2 separate regions of the Homo sapiens genome follow, and region 2 is linked to region 1. A link means that fine-mapping ties the variant in region 1 to the expression of a gene that starts in the linked region. Tissue or cell type: thyroid. Region 1 holds a variant in brackets; the other region holds the start of a gene. All regions are shown on one strand. Distances are between the middles of the regions.

What was found. PIP is the estimated chance that this variant, and not a neighbour inherited with it, causes the effect.
Region 2: PIKFYVE starts here. The variant in region 1 is fine-mapped to the expression of PIKFYVE in thyroid (GTEx, PIP 0.92).

What each region holds. Positions count from the first base shown.
Region 1 is chr2:208,238,807-208,246,913 of GRCh38, reverse strand. It overlaps IDH1 (isocitrate dehydrogenase (NADP(+)) 1), which reads left to right. Exons shown (of 10, transcript NM_005896.4): 5 at 1,490-1,595; 6 at 3,310-3,487; 7 at 4,769-4,920; 8 at 6,911-7,051; 9 at 7,681-7,843. Among named protein-coding and RNA genes, the nearest start is that of IDH1, 12 kb to the left of the region's middle. The variant T/G (reference allele first, on the strand shown) is at 3,707.
Region 2 is chr2:208,261,203-208,269,309 of GRCh38, reverse strand. It overlaps PIKFYVE (phosphoinositide kinase, FYVE-type zinc finger containing), which reads right to left and starts at 3,055. Exons shown (of 42, transcript NM_015040.4): 1 at 2,895-3,055. It also overlaps the pseudogene MYL6BP1. RefSeq lists a silencer at 2,769-3,038 and an enhancer at 3,169-3,218.

The DNA of each region.
Region 1 (8,107 bases):
TGGAGTGCAGTGGTGTGATCTTGGCTCACTGCAACCTCTGCCTCCCGGGTTCAAGCAATTCTCCTGCCTCAGCCTCTTGAGTAGCTGGGATTACAGGCACATGCTACCATGCCCGGCTAATTTTTGTGTTTTTAGTAGAGACGGGGTTTCACCATGTTGGTCAGGCTGGTCTCAAACTCCTGACCTTGTGATCCGCCCGCCTCCGCCTCCGCCTCCCAAAGTGCTGGGATTACAGGCATGCCACCATGCCCGGCCTTCCTCTTTTTTTTTTTTTTTTTAATTATTTTGGCATCAGTCATTTGTAAAAATGGCCATTCTATTTATTAAAGTCCAGAAAGAGAATTTCAAACCTCAGGTTGATTCATGGACTGTTTAAATATACATAAACCTATACAAAGCATTTATGGTGCTTTGGTACCTCAGTTTCTCCCTTTTCAGAAATAGTAATAAATTACCACCCATATTTACTTTATGGATTTTATATGTCAAAAATGTTCTGTGTAAAGTAGGTGTTTAATCTTTATTGTTACTTACTGCTCTTTTACCAGTTGTTATTAGTATTTCTCTACACTTATAGATGTGGCCGGCACCTGCTGGTACCTAACTCTGCAAGTATCTGATTCAATTCATTGAAGAAGATACAATGCAGCAAAGACTTATGGATGTCTAGTATATGCCAGGCATATTATTCCACTGAGTAGCTGAGGCCCATGAGGGAGGTGCCTGTCCTTGAACAGCCCTTTCCTAAAAATCATCATCATCCCATTGTAGCTGCTCCCAGAATGATTTGATTGCTCCATATGAACAAGTCCTATAACACTAGTAACAATGATACCATGAGAGACCGAGCCCCGATGGCCTAAGTAAGGACGAGACCTCAAGTCCTTTGACCCTGGATGCATTATTTCTACTATATCATAGTTCCCTCCTTGTAAGACTGATGTAAGAATCAAATGAGATTATGCAAGTTAAGCATTTAAAGCATCTGGCATAGAGTAAGGACAAAGCATTAGCTACCTCAGTACTACAATTAGTATTGTTATCATCACCCTCTAGGGAGACTTCCCTGACTTCCTTCCATGGTCACCTCTTTTCCTCTGTCATCCTATAGTTTTTTTTTTTTTGGGGGGGGGGTCTAATACCCTCTTTTGGCATTTGAAAGCTCTTATATTGCTTTTCACTTATATATGTCTTTATAGGGTTGTAAACTTCCTAAAGGAAAGTGGCTTATGTTATTCTCTGTCCTCTTCAAATCAGTGCTCAGAAAACTTTCCTATACCTCGTATAGGCACCTAATAAATATTTACTGATTTAGGGGAATGTCTGGACCTCTTCATCCCCATCTCCTAAAAAAAAAAAAAAAAAAAGAAGTTTGACATACTGCCCTATTTGTCTAGGTGTCTTCTAGGTCTATATTATATGAATATTCTCCTTACAATTCCTGCTAGGGTATTTTTTTTTTCTTTATACCTTTTTCCCCTCTACACAGTACAGAGCAACTGATTTTGTTGTTCCTGGGCCTGGAAAAGTAGAGATAACCTACACACCAAGTGACGGAACCCAAAAGGTGACATACCTGGTACATAACTTTGAAGGTATGTATGACTGTAGCATAAGCTTCTTTTTTTTTTAAACAAATGATTTAGATAATATTTTTATTGCTTTTTTTGTTAGTTATGTGACTGCCTAAAAATATAATCTGAATCTACAGTGTTTTTGCAAAACCCGAAACTTGACATAAAGAAGTAATTTGCTTCCATACCTTCCTGTGGCATGAATAAAGGCACAAAAGGGTTACCCACTTAATTGGAAATGCCTTTAGGCAAAGACAAGGAGATGATTATGCATTTATCTTAAAGCACAGAGAGAAGGTTGGCAGAAATCTGCTGTGCATGAATTATATACATTAAATATTAATATTCTCAAATCACCCAGCATATAATCCTGCCCTTTGCTCTGGTAGGGCTCTTGTATCTGGAAGAGGTTTCCTTATATATTTGCTGAAGTTTTCTTCTTGCCCTTCTGGGTATTTATCCTGTGAAAAAGTAGAACATTTGCTTTTTGCCTTTTCTTTCCCAGCTACCCTGCTACCTTTGATGGCAAATCCCACCCAAAAGTTGTTGAAATAATTAGTGGGCCCTTTTCCTTCACTATTGAAGTTGTTGAAAGCACTCACACAAACAAAAATACCCAACACTCACCTACCTTTTGTTTTTCTTGCCTCTTCCAAATAATATCTGTTGGAATCTGGTTCTGCAGGCTTCAGCACCTTTCACCCTGAACCCAAGTTAACCCTGAGCATTGGCATGGATTCAAGTTCTATCTTTAAGTAATAACAAAGTTCAATAATAGTTGTAAAACACAGTGATTACATGTAGCATAATTATTTCTACTTATTTCTACCAACTACAGTAGGAGTGCTCAGTATCCTCCAGGAGATTATAAGAATTTTCATTCAGTATTTGAAATTTAAGTTTTTCTCAATAACTGAGGATTGAGTACACCCCTAAAGTTTAAAATAGATGTTGGGAATTGTAAAGGTAGGGTGTTTGTCCATTCTTGCGTTGCTATAAAGAAATACCTGAGGCTGCGTAAGTTATAAAGAAAAGAGGTTTAATTGGCTCATGGTTCTGCAGGCTGTACAAGCCTGGCTCCAACACCTGTTCCTGGTGAGGGCCTCAGGAAGCTTCCAATCTTGGCAGAAGGCAAACAGACAATAGGTGTATCACATGGCAAGAGCGGGAACAAGAGAAAGAGAAGGGGGAGGTCCCAGACTCTTAAACAACCAGATTTCAAGTGAATTAACTGAGCGAGAACTCACGTAATCACCAAAGGGGATGGTCCTAAGCCATTCATAAGGGATCCAACCCCATGTTCCAATCTCCTCCCACTGGGCCCCACCTCCAACACTGGGAATCACATTTCAACATGAGATTTGGAAGGGACAAATATCCAAACCATATCAGTATGTAAAAGAAGTTTCAAAATTATTTGCCTTTTCTTAAATGTATTTCTGGTTCATATCAGTTTTTGGCATTTCTGCATCTTCAGGATTTTAAAGACTGTATGTTTTTTCATTTCTGCTGTCCTTCCAAAACAAGTTAGAATGTCCTTATCTAGAACTGGCTTTTCTCTCATTATGTGCCTCAGAAATTTGTTGGAAACCTGTCTGGGACTTCTGAAATCTAGTCTCAGATGTGAGAGCTGAGAAGTAGGTCATTTGGTTGTGGTGGGTGATTTTAGCCTTATTACAACTACATTACATTTATTCTTCTCCCTTTTTTCCTCTCACTGGCTTCTCCTCTACAGAAGGTGGTGGTGTTGCCATGGGGATGTATAATCAAGATAAGTCAATTGAAGATTTTGCACACAGTTCCTTCCAAATGGCTCTGTCTAAGGGTTGGCCTTTGTATCTGAGCACCAAAAACACTATTCTGAAGAAATATGATGGGCGTTTTAAAGACATCTTTCAGGAGATATATGACAAGTAACTATAGTTCTTTTTTAACTTTTTCTTTATTCTCAAGTAAGCTGACATTTGCATATAGAGTATGTATCTCCCTATCCCTATGATTCTGGGTAAATTGAGTGAAAATCATCACTGTCTCTTAAAGATAAGGGCAAAACTGAGGTTTAGCAGGAGTGAAACAAAACCACTCTGACTTGCTTTTATAAGATAAACATGTTCTTAAATAAGGTCCCCACA[T/G]GAATTGTTTTCAGAGCCAGGTTCTTTAATGTTTAAATAAACGTACGCTGTTAGTGATAAGTTCTAATTTTTCATGTGTGAGTTTCTAAGTCAGACCCATTTCCATTCTTTCTGAAGCCCATTGTTAGAATTTAAAATTCTGTTGGCCAGGCACGGTGGCTCATGCCTGTAATCCCAGCACTTTGGGAGGCCGAGGCGGGCGGATCACGAGGTCAGGAGATCGAGACCATCCTGGCTAACACGGTGAAACCCTGACTCTACTAAAAATACCAAAAATTAGCCGGGCGTGGTGGCGGGCGCCTCTAGTCCCAGTTACTGGGGAGGCTGAGGCAGGAGAATGGCGTGAACCCGGGAGGCGGAGGTTGCAGTGAGCCGAAATCACGCCACTGCACTGCAGCCTGGGCGACAGAGCGAGACTCCGTCTCAAAAAAAAAAAAAGAAAAGAAAAGAAAAAAAAGAATTTAAAATTCTGTTTTAGTGGAGTCATTTGAACTTAAGTCTAAGTTTATAACAACACTGGCTTCCACAGCACAGGAGGTGAGCATGTGTTAATATTTAAGATTGGCATAACTCCCTTTAGGTGCAAGTGTTCAGGCCAAAATGTTCCTGAGGCATTTTGATTCCTCCTCCTGCTGCCCATCTATACCAAGCCCAGAAACTGTCTGGAATATATTTTAGTTTCCTGAATGACACCAAGAAGTAGAACAGTCTTTTCAAAAATGTATTTTAAAAATAAGCTGAATCTCAAGAATCTGATCTATAGTATAATGAAAACTGAAAAGTGAAGTAGTCATTGGGATACTCTACTGTCTCACTTAATTCTCACGGCTTCCCTGCAAGGTGGGTAAAATTGTTCCTACAGATAGTCAAATTGAGTTTTACAGTTAGAAAATGATTGGGCTAGGATTTGAGCCAATGTCTGTCAGATTCCTGAGTTTCTGCTACTTCTACTAAAATATGCTGCTTCTTGTGTGTCCGGTCTTCTGTTTGGGACAAGCAGATGATATCCCTAACAAAATCAATTTTCTTTATTATTATTCTCTTTTACCTTTTGTTTCCCAGGCAGTACAAGTCCCAGTTTGAAGCTCAAAAGATCTGGTATGAGCATAGGCTCATCGACGACATGGTGGCCCAAGCTATGAAATCAGAGGGAGGCTTCATCTGGGCCTGTAAAAACTATGATGGTGACGTGCAGTCGGACTCTGTGGCCCAAGGTACAGAGGTGGAGCCTGGCCTGTAGGAACAGGGTCATTCCAGGGTAGTTCTCTAATTTGGGAAGGGGAGTTTTGTAGTCCTTTGTTGTAAAATCTTGGAATGTTAAACCTCCAGGTCCACCGTCTTACCTGACAGCTAAGGAAATTAAGCTCAGACTAGAGAAATGATTTACTCAAGACCACATGGGAAGTAAATTAGTGGATTGACACTCCTGGCTCCAGTGTCACTCCTTGAAGTTTTAAAGCCTACCTGATCTGAAAATCACTCCCTTTCCCTGCCCTCCTTGTCCTTTGGTGAAAATGTAAAAAACCAGGGCACTCAGGCAAGGAGGGATAAAGTGAGGAGCTTGATCATGTCATAACCAAGCTTTGGTGCCTGCAAAGCTCATTTATTGGGCAGCAGGACCTACTCATGTCCCTCTGCCAGCTGCTGTTCTGGTAGAATATAAAACAAATGTGTTTGGCTGGGCACAGTGGCTCACGCCTGTAATCCTAGCACTTTGAGAGGCCAAGGCAGTGGATCACTTGAGGCCAGGAGTTCAAGACCAGCCTGGCCAACATAGCAAAACCCCATCTCTACTTCAAAAAAAAAAAAAAAAAAAAATTAGCCAGGTGTGGTCGCATGCCTATAGTCCCTGGCACTCAGGAGGCTAAAGCATGAGAATTTCTTGAGCCTGGGAAGCGGAGGTTGCAGTGAGCTGAGATCACGCCACTATACTCCAGCCTGGGCAACAGAGCAAGACTCTTGTCTCAACAACAACAAAGAAAAAGTGTTTTTGTTTACTGCTTAGCTTACACACAAATCAATTGAGCAAAGAACCCTAGGGGCTGTTTACAGAAATTCCAGGAGAAGTTTCATGCATGGGGTAAGGGCCAAATCAACAGAAACACAGCGCCTGGTTTCCTCAGCACCAAGTTGCCCTTCAGTTTCAGTTGCCCTTGGTAGCTGTATGAACTTGAATCTCCCCAGATGAATGTTTGTTAACTTTAATTATGTTTGTTTTTCCCAAGAAGTACTACTTTTTCTGTCTCTTATCAGTGTTAAACATCTCCTCTCAGTTTGAAAATCAGTAGATCAACCTGGTTAAAGATAACTTTTTGCCAGATAAATGAGTTACACAACTCTCCTTACCATCCTTCTGTTTCTCTACATCCTCACAATCATTTGTACTGAATGCAACAGAGGAAGGAGTGTTATTGCTTTGTGATGACTCCGTGGTTGATTATTAACTTCACAGGTGATGTTGGGAGGTAGCAAAAATGGAGAAAAGAAGAAAATCAATTATATAGATATAAGAGTTGTAATGTGGTTCTTTCAATAAGAAACCACAGAAGAGAACTGTTGTACTGAGGGTATGAAAGAGAGCGAGGAAGGGCAACTGGGATGTTCTTAGATCCAACCGATCCTGTGTTTACCTGCCTTCTCTTCCCAGTCCCAGCAAGTGTATGAGCAGCTTGAGGGTTCTTAAGAGACAGCTCTCGTCCATCTTTATTTCCCCAGAACAGCAGAGCATTGCACATAAGAATAACAATAATAGATTGAGCTCTGTGTCCAGTACTATTCTAAGGAATATAAATATATATTCATATATATTTATGAATATATGTATATTTATCTAATCCCACAGCAACCTAGTGAAGTAGGTGCTGTTATTACTCCCATTTTACAGATAAGAAAACTGAGCCGCAGTAGCTATGAAGTCATAGAACTAGAGTGGAATGTAGGCAGTTGGACCCTGAACCCTCCATCAAGGAGTAGGTATCCCTGAAATAAGTGAGGGGAAAATGCAGCCTTTCCAGACCCATTGGCTCTGATATCTGGAGCGGGGATCCTGCCTTCTGAAAGGCAGAATTATTGGTGATTCCATGTGCTCTTGTTTACTTTGCTTACCAAGACCTATCAAGATTGAGTCATTTATGCTCTCATCTCTGAGAGACTCAGTGCTCTTCATGCAGTTGGACCCAACGCTTCATGCTCCACTACTTACAGGGTATGGCTCTCTCGGCATGATGACCAGCGTGCTGGTTTGTCCAGATGGCAAGACAGTAGAAGCAGAGGCTGCCCACGGGACTGTAACCCGTCACTACCGCATGTACCAGAAAGGACAGGAGACGTCCACCAATCCCATTGGTAAGATGGTGTTTACATTGATTTCTCACCAGAGAGTGCTCTCCAAAGCAGCCCAGATGTGTTCCCTTGGCTGCTCAGTGTTTTGTGTGCAAAGTCATCACCAAGTAGCTGATTTGTTCTACTAGTAAGATCTATTTGAATATGCTTCTTAAAATATACAATATTTGCTTTTCTGTTTTGTGGGAGAACATAGGTTACAGAGAGGAATGTTATCAACAAGCATTTTCCTTTACCTCTGGTGCAGTGAAATGTCACATAAGGCTACAAATCTAAAAGTCACATGGATAGATCCTTTTAACAAGTTTCAAAGATAGCACTTCAAAAAGAGATTACAGCCTGGAAAAAGGAGACCAATATAGACAAGAGATAGAAGAGATTGTGACCTTTTTCAAATTAGAAAATGCCTTAAGTTTCAAACACTAGTACCATGCCATGAAAATGTGTTTTTTTAAAGTTTCTGTTTGGTAAAATATTTCTAACTCTCCTAAAACTTCTAGCCCATGTGGTTAGTATCTAAAGAAGTCTGTCACCTAAACAAAAAACTATTCTGTTTTGGGGAACTATGAGACATTTGGAAACCTCTATAACTAGGATGATTGGAGTGTTGTGTTTTTTTTCCCCTCTTTTAGCTTCCATTTTTGCCTGGACCAGAGGGTTAGCCCACAGAGCAAAGCTTGATAACAATAAAGAGCTTGCCTTCTTTGCAAATGCTTTGGAAGAAGTCTCTATTGAGACAATTGAGGCTGGCTTCATGACCAAGGACTTGGCTGCTTGCATTAAAGGTTTACCCAAGTAAGTATAAGATGCCCTAGTTTCTATGGTCAAATTAACACTTATCCTCACTGGGCTCAGAGCATCGGTGCTTTCTGGAATTATATAAATTGTTATTCATCATCTAGTTCAGGAGTCAGCAGATATCTGTAAATTGTCAGATAGTGAACATTTTAGGCTTTGTGGAACATATAGTCTTTTTGCAACTACACAACTATTCAACTTTGCCTCTGCCATTGTAGCAGGAAAGCAGTCATAGACAATACAGAATCAAATGGTGTGGCT
Region 2 (8,107 bases), 22 kb before region 1:
GGGCCCCCTGCAGGCAGAAGCATGTTCCAGCCACCAGGAGGCTACCTACTGTTTCAAAATAAAGACAAGGTTCCTCCCTTGGAGAAAACAATATATATACTATAGTTTATAATCTAGTCTCCACTTTACAAAGAGGACATTACAGTCTCGGTAAAATGCTTTTCACATTCAAAATCATAGCTACCATCTCATTTTACTCTTACAATCCTGGAAGGCACACACAGCTGGCTTTATGACATTTTACCTTTGAGGCAACCAAGGTACTCTGAACCTAAAACAACTTTCTTGGGGGTCACACAGACATTAGTAGAACTGTCACTATACCCCAAGTCTCACCCCAAAAGTATTACCTAAATCAAAATTACTTTTGTAGCTCTTCACACTTCCCTTTTAGCCTATCCGCGTTCTCTAACTACTTAAGGCTTTGTCTGATCAATAATTTAATTAATAAATTAAGGCAGAAATGAAACCACTGACTTAAACAGAATTTTGGCAATACATGTTTATTGGGGGGGGAAGAAAAAGAGGAAGAGGAAGGGGAAGGAAAGAGGAAGGAGAAAAGGAAGAAGAAGGGGAAGGAAGGTTTCTAATATCTTCCACTGAGAATAATCATCAACAATCCTTCTGAAGTGTCATGACAATTCAGCAAAAAGTGTTGGGAAGTAAGCTGATAACTGAATAAGTATACACTCAAAAAAAAGTTTGTGTTTTTTTTATATTAAAAAAAAAAAGAGGCCAGGCACTGTGGCCTCATGTCTGTAATCCCAGCACTTTAGGAGGCTGAGACGGGAGGATCGCTTGAGGCCAGGAGTTCCAGACCAGCCTAGTCAACATAGCGAGACTTCATCTCTATTTTATTTAGGGAAAAAAAAAAAAAAAAAAAAAAGAGCTCTGGAGAGAAACGATAATGTGATGGCCGTAACAACCACCCCTGGAAAACAGCCTACATTCTACTTTGACACAAGTAATGTCAGAGGCAGAGATGACATTCTGCCTAAAGAGTCTTAGAATTACTTCTAAAGGTTATCTACACAAAAATTATACTCGGCTTTGGAAATAAGAAGATAAAAATTCCCATGAAAACACTTAGCAAGTGTAGTCTCTGAAATATAAACCCAATCATATAGTTAACCCTAATAATTACATAATGACACTAGGGCCCTGAAAAAATTATCTTATAACTCTCACTCTTTAGCAGCTTAACAACGCTTTAAAATATAAATTAGGACTCTTTCCTGAGTGGTAATCAGTCCTATTAACCTACCTACCCAAAGCCTTCTGATATATCACCAATACTTCACCATTTCTAATTAAGGCTACTAATATATGCAGACCTACTACAAACTATCAGAAGCCAGTCAGTAAAGGCCGGACGTGGCTGCTCACACCTGTGATCCCAGCACTTTGGGAGGCCGAGGCAGGAGAATCCCTTGAGCCTGGGAGGCGGAGACTGCAGTAAGCCGAGATCACACCACTTCACTCCAGCCTGGGCGAGGGAGGGAGACCCCCGCCCGGTGGCTCACGCCTGTAATCCCAGCACCTTGGGAGGCCGAGGCGGGTGAATCGCCTGAGGTCAGGAATTCAAAACCAGCTTCGCTAACATGGTGAAACCCCGTCTCCCCTAAAAATACAAAAATTAGCCGAGTGTGGTGTCGCGCGCCTGCAATCTAGCTACTCAGGAGGCTGAGGCAGGAGAATCGCCTGAACCCTGGGAGGCGGAGGTTGCAGTCGGAGGAGATCGCGCCACTGCACTCCAACCTGGGGGACAGAGCGAGACTCTGTCTCTCAAAAAAAAAAAAAAAAAAAACTGGCAATGTAATAATTTAGGAAAGCTGAATATTGGAAATGTTAGCTTCTATCAACAAAGATTTCTTGTTCAATTTTTGACCAACACGCTTAAAGGAAAACCAGAGCAGGATCCAGAAAGCAGAAAAAGGGAGAACACAGGAAATTAGCCTTGCTCCACAGAAGAGATTTAACCTACACAATCTTTGTCACAAACACAAAAGAAAGAACATTTTTTGTAAGAAAACTGACAGAGTGGGAGTTTTGGAGTGCCAAAAAAGGGGCTCAAATAAATCAGAAATAAGTACATTATACCAAGCGACTACCTCTATTGTCAACACTGGACATATTTTACAACACAGGATGCACTGCGTCAATAGTAGATAATGAATCATGTATACACATCAGATACACACGAATAACTTGCTTTATACAGAATTCTAGCACTTCTTATATTTCTTGACTGTCTTAGGAATAACCTCTGATTGGGCAGAAAACCCCTAAGTCCTAAAAGTTTCCAACACATTCCATTCTCATCCTTTTGTTGGGAACATTCTAAGCAAAGGGTAAACACTAATTGGGAAATAATGCTCCTCCTCAAGAAACTCCAAAACCTAAGTTGAAATGGAATCGTCTCAAATAGCAGAGGCAAGCATTTAAAAAGACAAACACTTATTTGAACCCCCACGGTTGGTATCGTTTCTGCAGCTCATGAACTTTCTTTTCCAGCCTACGGATGCGCCTCTGACAAACTCAGAACTCATGCACTCAGAGGGAAAAGTAACTGTACTCTTCCCCTCCTAATTAAGTTCAGGCGTAAGGGTCGAGAGAGAGGCAAAGGAACTTCAAATGTTTCCAAGGAAATCTCAAGGGCCCCACCCGGCTTCCGTCCCCACTCGCCAGACAAGGCAGCCGGGGAATAGGGAGGACAAGCTAATTCTAAAGCCAGATTCTCTGCCCTTCCTTGCTCAGCCGGCAGCCAGGCCCTAGCCCCCGACTGCGGAGCCCTGGTTCTCACTTTCACCTCAGCTCTGGCCCTGGAGCTCCCCATACCGGCCTCCTTCCCATGCTGAGCCCCAGCCGGCCAAGCTCCAGGCCCCCTCCCTTACCTGCGCCTCCTGCCCCGGCCGCGCCGGCTGCCCCCCGCCCCAGCCTCCGCTTCAACGGCTCAGCCCCCGGAAGTCGGCCCCCGAGAGCGGCGGTGGGCTCCTCAGGCCGCGGACGGTTGCGGCAGGAAGCGAAGCTGCTTACATGGTTGATGCGGCTTCTCGCTTCCCCCCCCCAAGACTCCGCCCTCTGTTTTCCTGTCCCCCAGTCCGAAATCTTTCCCGGGGGCCGGCTCCTCCCAGCCCGGCCGACGCTCGGATCAGATGCTCAGGCAGAAGGAGTCCAGCCCAGATCGAGTCGTCCTGATCTTTTGGCCGAGATTAGGCCGCTTCAGCCTTCCTGGAAGAAGCCAGGGGGACTGCGCGCGTGAGCGTCACGCATGCGGGGTCAACGGATGGGTGCTTGGTGCTCTGGGCACTGCAGGGGTGCTGGCTGGACTGCGGTTACCGTATGTGTTCGATACTGTGGGCACTCATAATATGTTATTGCTTTGTTGTAGACAGTTCACTCGTGTAGCACTGAACCGGAGTTAGCGATGACTCTGTTTCCAGACTTGCATGACTCCACCAATAACCAGCCATATGATCTTAAGCAAATTGCTCATTTATTTAGGCCTTAGACCTCTGGTGTGTAAAGTCGGATTAATAAAAGGACTCACTTCTTAATACTTTTTTGAGATTAAGTAAATGCACTTAAAGCGAATGGCACAGTTCCCTGACCCAGAGTAAGTGATGTCGGCTTTATAGTTAATTTTTTCATTTAGGTGTTGTGTTGCAAATGCTGATGCAAATAAAGTTACCAAGCCCAAGCCCTATCTTGTTCAGCTTGGCTAGAGTTATTCGTCATTTCTGTCCTGCTGAGAGCGCAGTGCAGTTAACTGCAGAAAACATGCTCGCCGCAGTTGTGGGGCTTGGTAGGGGAGGATGGAAAGCAGACGAAACCTAAAGGGAAATGCAGTTTTAAATTCTGTGAGTCCTTTTCCTCAAGAGTTTTGTCAAATCCCAGCCCAGTTTTCCTGGAGTTGGAAAGCACCATCGAAACCTGCAGGTTGAGTCCAGTGCAAATCCCAGTCACCATCCTCAGCTGGGCCCTTCAGCAATCTTTCTGGGAGTCTGTAGTCAGCTTCTCCCATTCCTTATTACTGCTGCGTCAGACCACCACCACGACCCCCACATTACCTTGACCATCATTCTCATCAGAGAATCATATTTTATACCCACGTGAAAAATCCCAAGGTATCTGGGCGTGACCCTTAACAAGCTAATTCCCCACACACCACAACATTTACCTACATCCACATCTGCCCTGGTCTGCCTTTCTCCCTCATCTCTCTGAGGAAGGGGCCTCTTCTTCCCCAGCTCAATCCTTTTGGCCCCCAATTCACCCTCTCCTGTCTGGGAGCTTGCACCGTATCTGCAACCTCCCCTTTTCCAATGACTCTGCCTCCTCAGCCCATAAAGATGCTCAAGTCTCTGCCTTCCTTTAAAAAAATTTTTTTTAAAAATTTAAGATAAGCAAAAAAGGCCCTCGTAATTATCACCCTATGTTAATATTTCATAAACCTACAATAAAGTATGAAATAGGTACAGAGATCATATGAAAAGAATAAATTGCCCAGCCACGACGACTGCAGTGTATGTAGAAACTCCATCTATGGTTTAAAAAAAAAAAAAAAAAGTGCACTCCGCAAATATTTTTGAGTCCCTAATTTAACCTGCAGTGTGTTAGTTATAGAAGCACTACACTAAGGATAGAATTATGAACGTATCCCACTGCTTCACTTGACTAGCCTAAAAAATAAAAATATATGTGAACATTACACAGTCCATGTCCTCAAGAAGCTTACCGTCTAATATCTATATTAGCTTACAGTTTAATTTCTGTGGAAAAGAGATTGAAAACTGGGCTACTGTTTTTGCAAAAGAAATCATTTTAGATTCTCACTTCACACTAGACATCCAAAATTAATTCCAGATGAATTTTATCTGTAGAGAGATTATTTGTCTGTGTATATATCCTCCTCAAAAACTTTCATTCAAGCACAGATTTAGGATTCTTGCTGAATCAATTATTGTTCGATGATATTATACTTCTATTCCTCTGTATGTATTAGTTGAATTTTACTGCAACTAATAGCGTTCCATCTTTTTCTTTCTTTCTTTATATTGGTTAGTATGACTTTGGACTCATTTTTTTCCAACATGTTATAGTTCATTACTGCCACTATTCATTTCTGTGCTCCAGGTGTCCCCGCCTTGGCTGGTGTGAGCCCCTTCCAGCAGACTCCTGAGTCCATTTGACATGCCTCCATTACCTTTTGAGCACATCTTACTTTTTGTTCTTTTTCTCTCTCCGCCACCCCTTACCCCTGGCAACCACCATTCTACCCACTACTTCTATGAGTTCAACATTTTTAAATTCCATATATATGAGATCTTGTGGTATATTTCTGTGTCTGGTTTATTTCACTTAACATAATGTCCCCAGGTTCATCCATGTTGTCACAAAAGACAGAATTTCCTTATTTTTTAAGGCTGAATAATGTTCCACCGTATATATATACCACATTTTATTTTATTTTTTTGACATGGAGTCTGTCACCAAGGCTGGAGTACAGTGGTGCAATCTGGGCTTACTGCAATCTCCACCCTCTGCCCCAACCCCCCCGACCTCCACCCCACCCCTATTCTCCTGCCTCAGCCTCCCGAGTAGCTGGGATTACAGGCGCCTGTCACTGCACCTGGCTAATTTTTGTATTTTTAGTAGAGACGGGGTTTCACTGTCTTGGCCAGGCTGGTCTTGAACCCCTGACCTCGTGATCCACCTGCCTCAGCCTCCCAAAGTGCTGGGATTACCGGCGTGAGCCACAGTGCCCAGCCCCACATTTTCTTTATTCAGTTGTTCATTGATGGACACTTAGGTTGATTTCATATCTTGGCTATTGTGAATAATGCTGCAATAAAGATGGGAGTGCAGATACCTCTTAAAAATAGTGATTTTGGCTGGACACGGTGGCTCGCGCCTGTAATCCTAGCACTTTGGGAGGCCAAGATGGAAGGATTGCTTGAAGCCAGGAGTTCAACACCAGCCTGGTCAACATAGCAAGACCCCATCTCTATAAAAAGATTTTTTTTAATTTCAATAAAAGAAAAAATAGTGATTTTATTTCCTTTGGATATATACCCTGTAGTGGGATGGCTGGATCACATGATAGTTTTATTTTTAAATTTTTTGGCAACTTCCATACTGTTTTCCATAATGGCTGTACTAATTTGCATTCCTACCAACAGTGTGCAAGGGTTTCCTTTTCTCTATTTTCTCTCCAATCTTGTTATCTTTTGTCTTTTTGATATAGCCATTGTAATAGGTGTGAAGTGATATCTCTCATTGTGGTTTTAATTTGCATTTGTCTGATGATTAATTACGTTGAACTTTTTTTCATATACCTGTTGGCCATTTGTATGTCCTCTTTTGAGAAATGTCTATTCACATCCTTTGCCCATTTTATAATCAGATTATTTGCTTTCTTACTATTGAGTTGTTTGAGTTCCTTATATATTTTGGATATTATCCCTTTATCAGATGTATGGCTGGCAAATATTTGCTCCTGTTCTCTGTTGTCTCTTCAGTCTGTCTATTGTAACCCTTGCTCTGTAGAAACTTCTCAGTTTTATGTAATCCCATTTGTCTATTTGGCTTTTGTAGCCTGTGCTTTTGGGGTCATATCTAAAAAATCACTACTCAGACCAATGTCATGGAGCTTTTCCCTCTCGTTTTTTACAGTTTCAGGGGGTACACATAACGTCTTCAATTTATTTGAGTTGATTATTATATATGGTATGAGATAAGCCTCTAATTTCATTCTCCTGCATATGGATATCCCATTTACCCATTACTACTTATTGAAGAGAATATCCTTTCCCTATAGTGTATTCTTGTCCCCTTATTGAACAATTGACTGTAAATGGGTAAATTTACTTCTGGACTCTTTATTCTTTTTTTCACTTTTTATTTTTTTTTAAAAATGAGCATCCTATTAACTGATAGACTCTTTATTCTGTTCAGTTGGTTTGTCTGTTTCTCTGCCAGTACCATGCTGTTCTGATTACTGTAGCTTTGTAGTGTATTTTGAGATCAAGCAGTATGATGCTTCTAGCTTTGTTCTTTTTGCTCAAGAATTCTTTAGCTATTCAGCCTCTTTTGTCATTCCATAGGAATTTTAGACTTTTTTTTCTAGCTGTGCGAAAAAGTCATTGGAATTTTTATAGGGATTGCATTGAATCTGTGGATCACTTTGGACATTTTAACAATATTAATTCTTTCAACCCATAAACATGAGATGTCTTTTTATTTATTTCTGTCTTCTTCAGTTTCTTTCATCAATGTTTTATAGGTTTCAGTGTGCGGGTCTTTTACTTCTGTTAAATTTCTTTCTTTTTTTTTTTTTTTTTTTTGAGATGGAGTCTCACTGTGTCACCCGGGCTGGAGTGCAGTGGGGCCATCTCGGCTCACTGCAACCTCCGCCTCCCAGGTTCAAGCAATTCTCCTGCCTCAGCCTCCTGAGTAGCTGGGATTACAGGTGCCCACCACTACGCCCAGCTAATTTTTTTGTATTTTTAGTAGAGACGGGGTTTCACCATGTTGGCCAGGCTGGTCTCAAACCCCTGACCTCGTGCTTCGCCTGCCTTGGCCTCCCAAAGTGCTGGGATTACAGGTGTGAGCCACCACACCTGGCCCGTATTTATTTCTAAGTATTTTAATATATTTTTGTAGCTATTGCAAATAGGATTGTTTTATTGATTTCTCTTTCAGATAGTTCACTGTTAATATTTGGAAACAGTACTCATTTTTGTATACTGATTTTATATCCTACAACATTACTAAATTTGTTTATTCTAATAGTTTTTTGGTGCAGTCTTTAGGGTTTTTTATGTATAAGATCATGTAACCTGCCAGGTGTGGTGGCTCACGCCTGTAATCCCAGCACTTTGGGAGGCAGAGGTGGGCAGATCATGAGGTCAGGAGTTCGAGACCAGCCTGGCCAACATGCTGAAACCCCATCTCTACTAAAAATAGAAAAATTAGCCAGGCATGGTGGCGCATGCCTGTAGTCCCAGCTACTCAGGAGGCTGAGGCAGGAGAATTTCTTGAACCCAGGAGGCAGAGGTTGCAGTGAGCCGAGATCTCACTGCTGCACTCCAGCCTGGGTGACAGA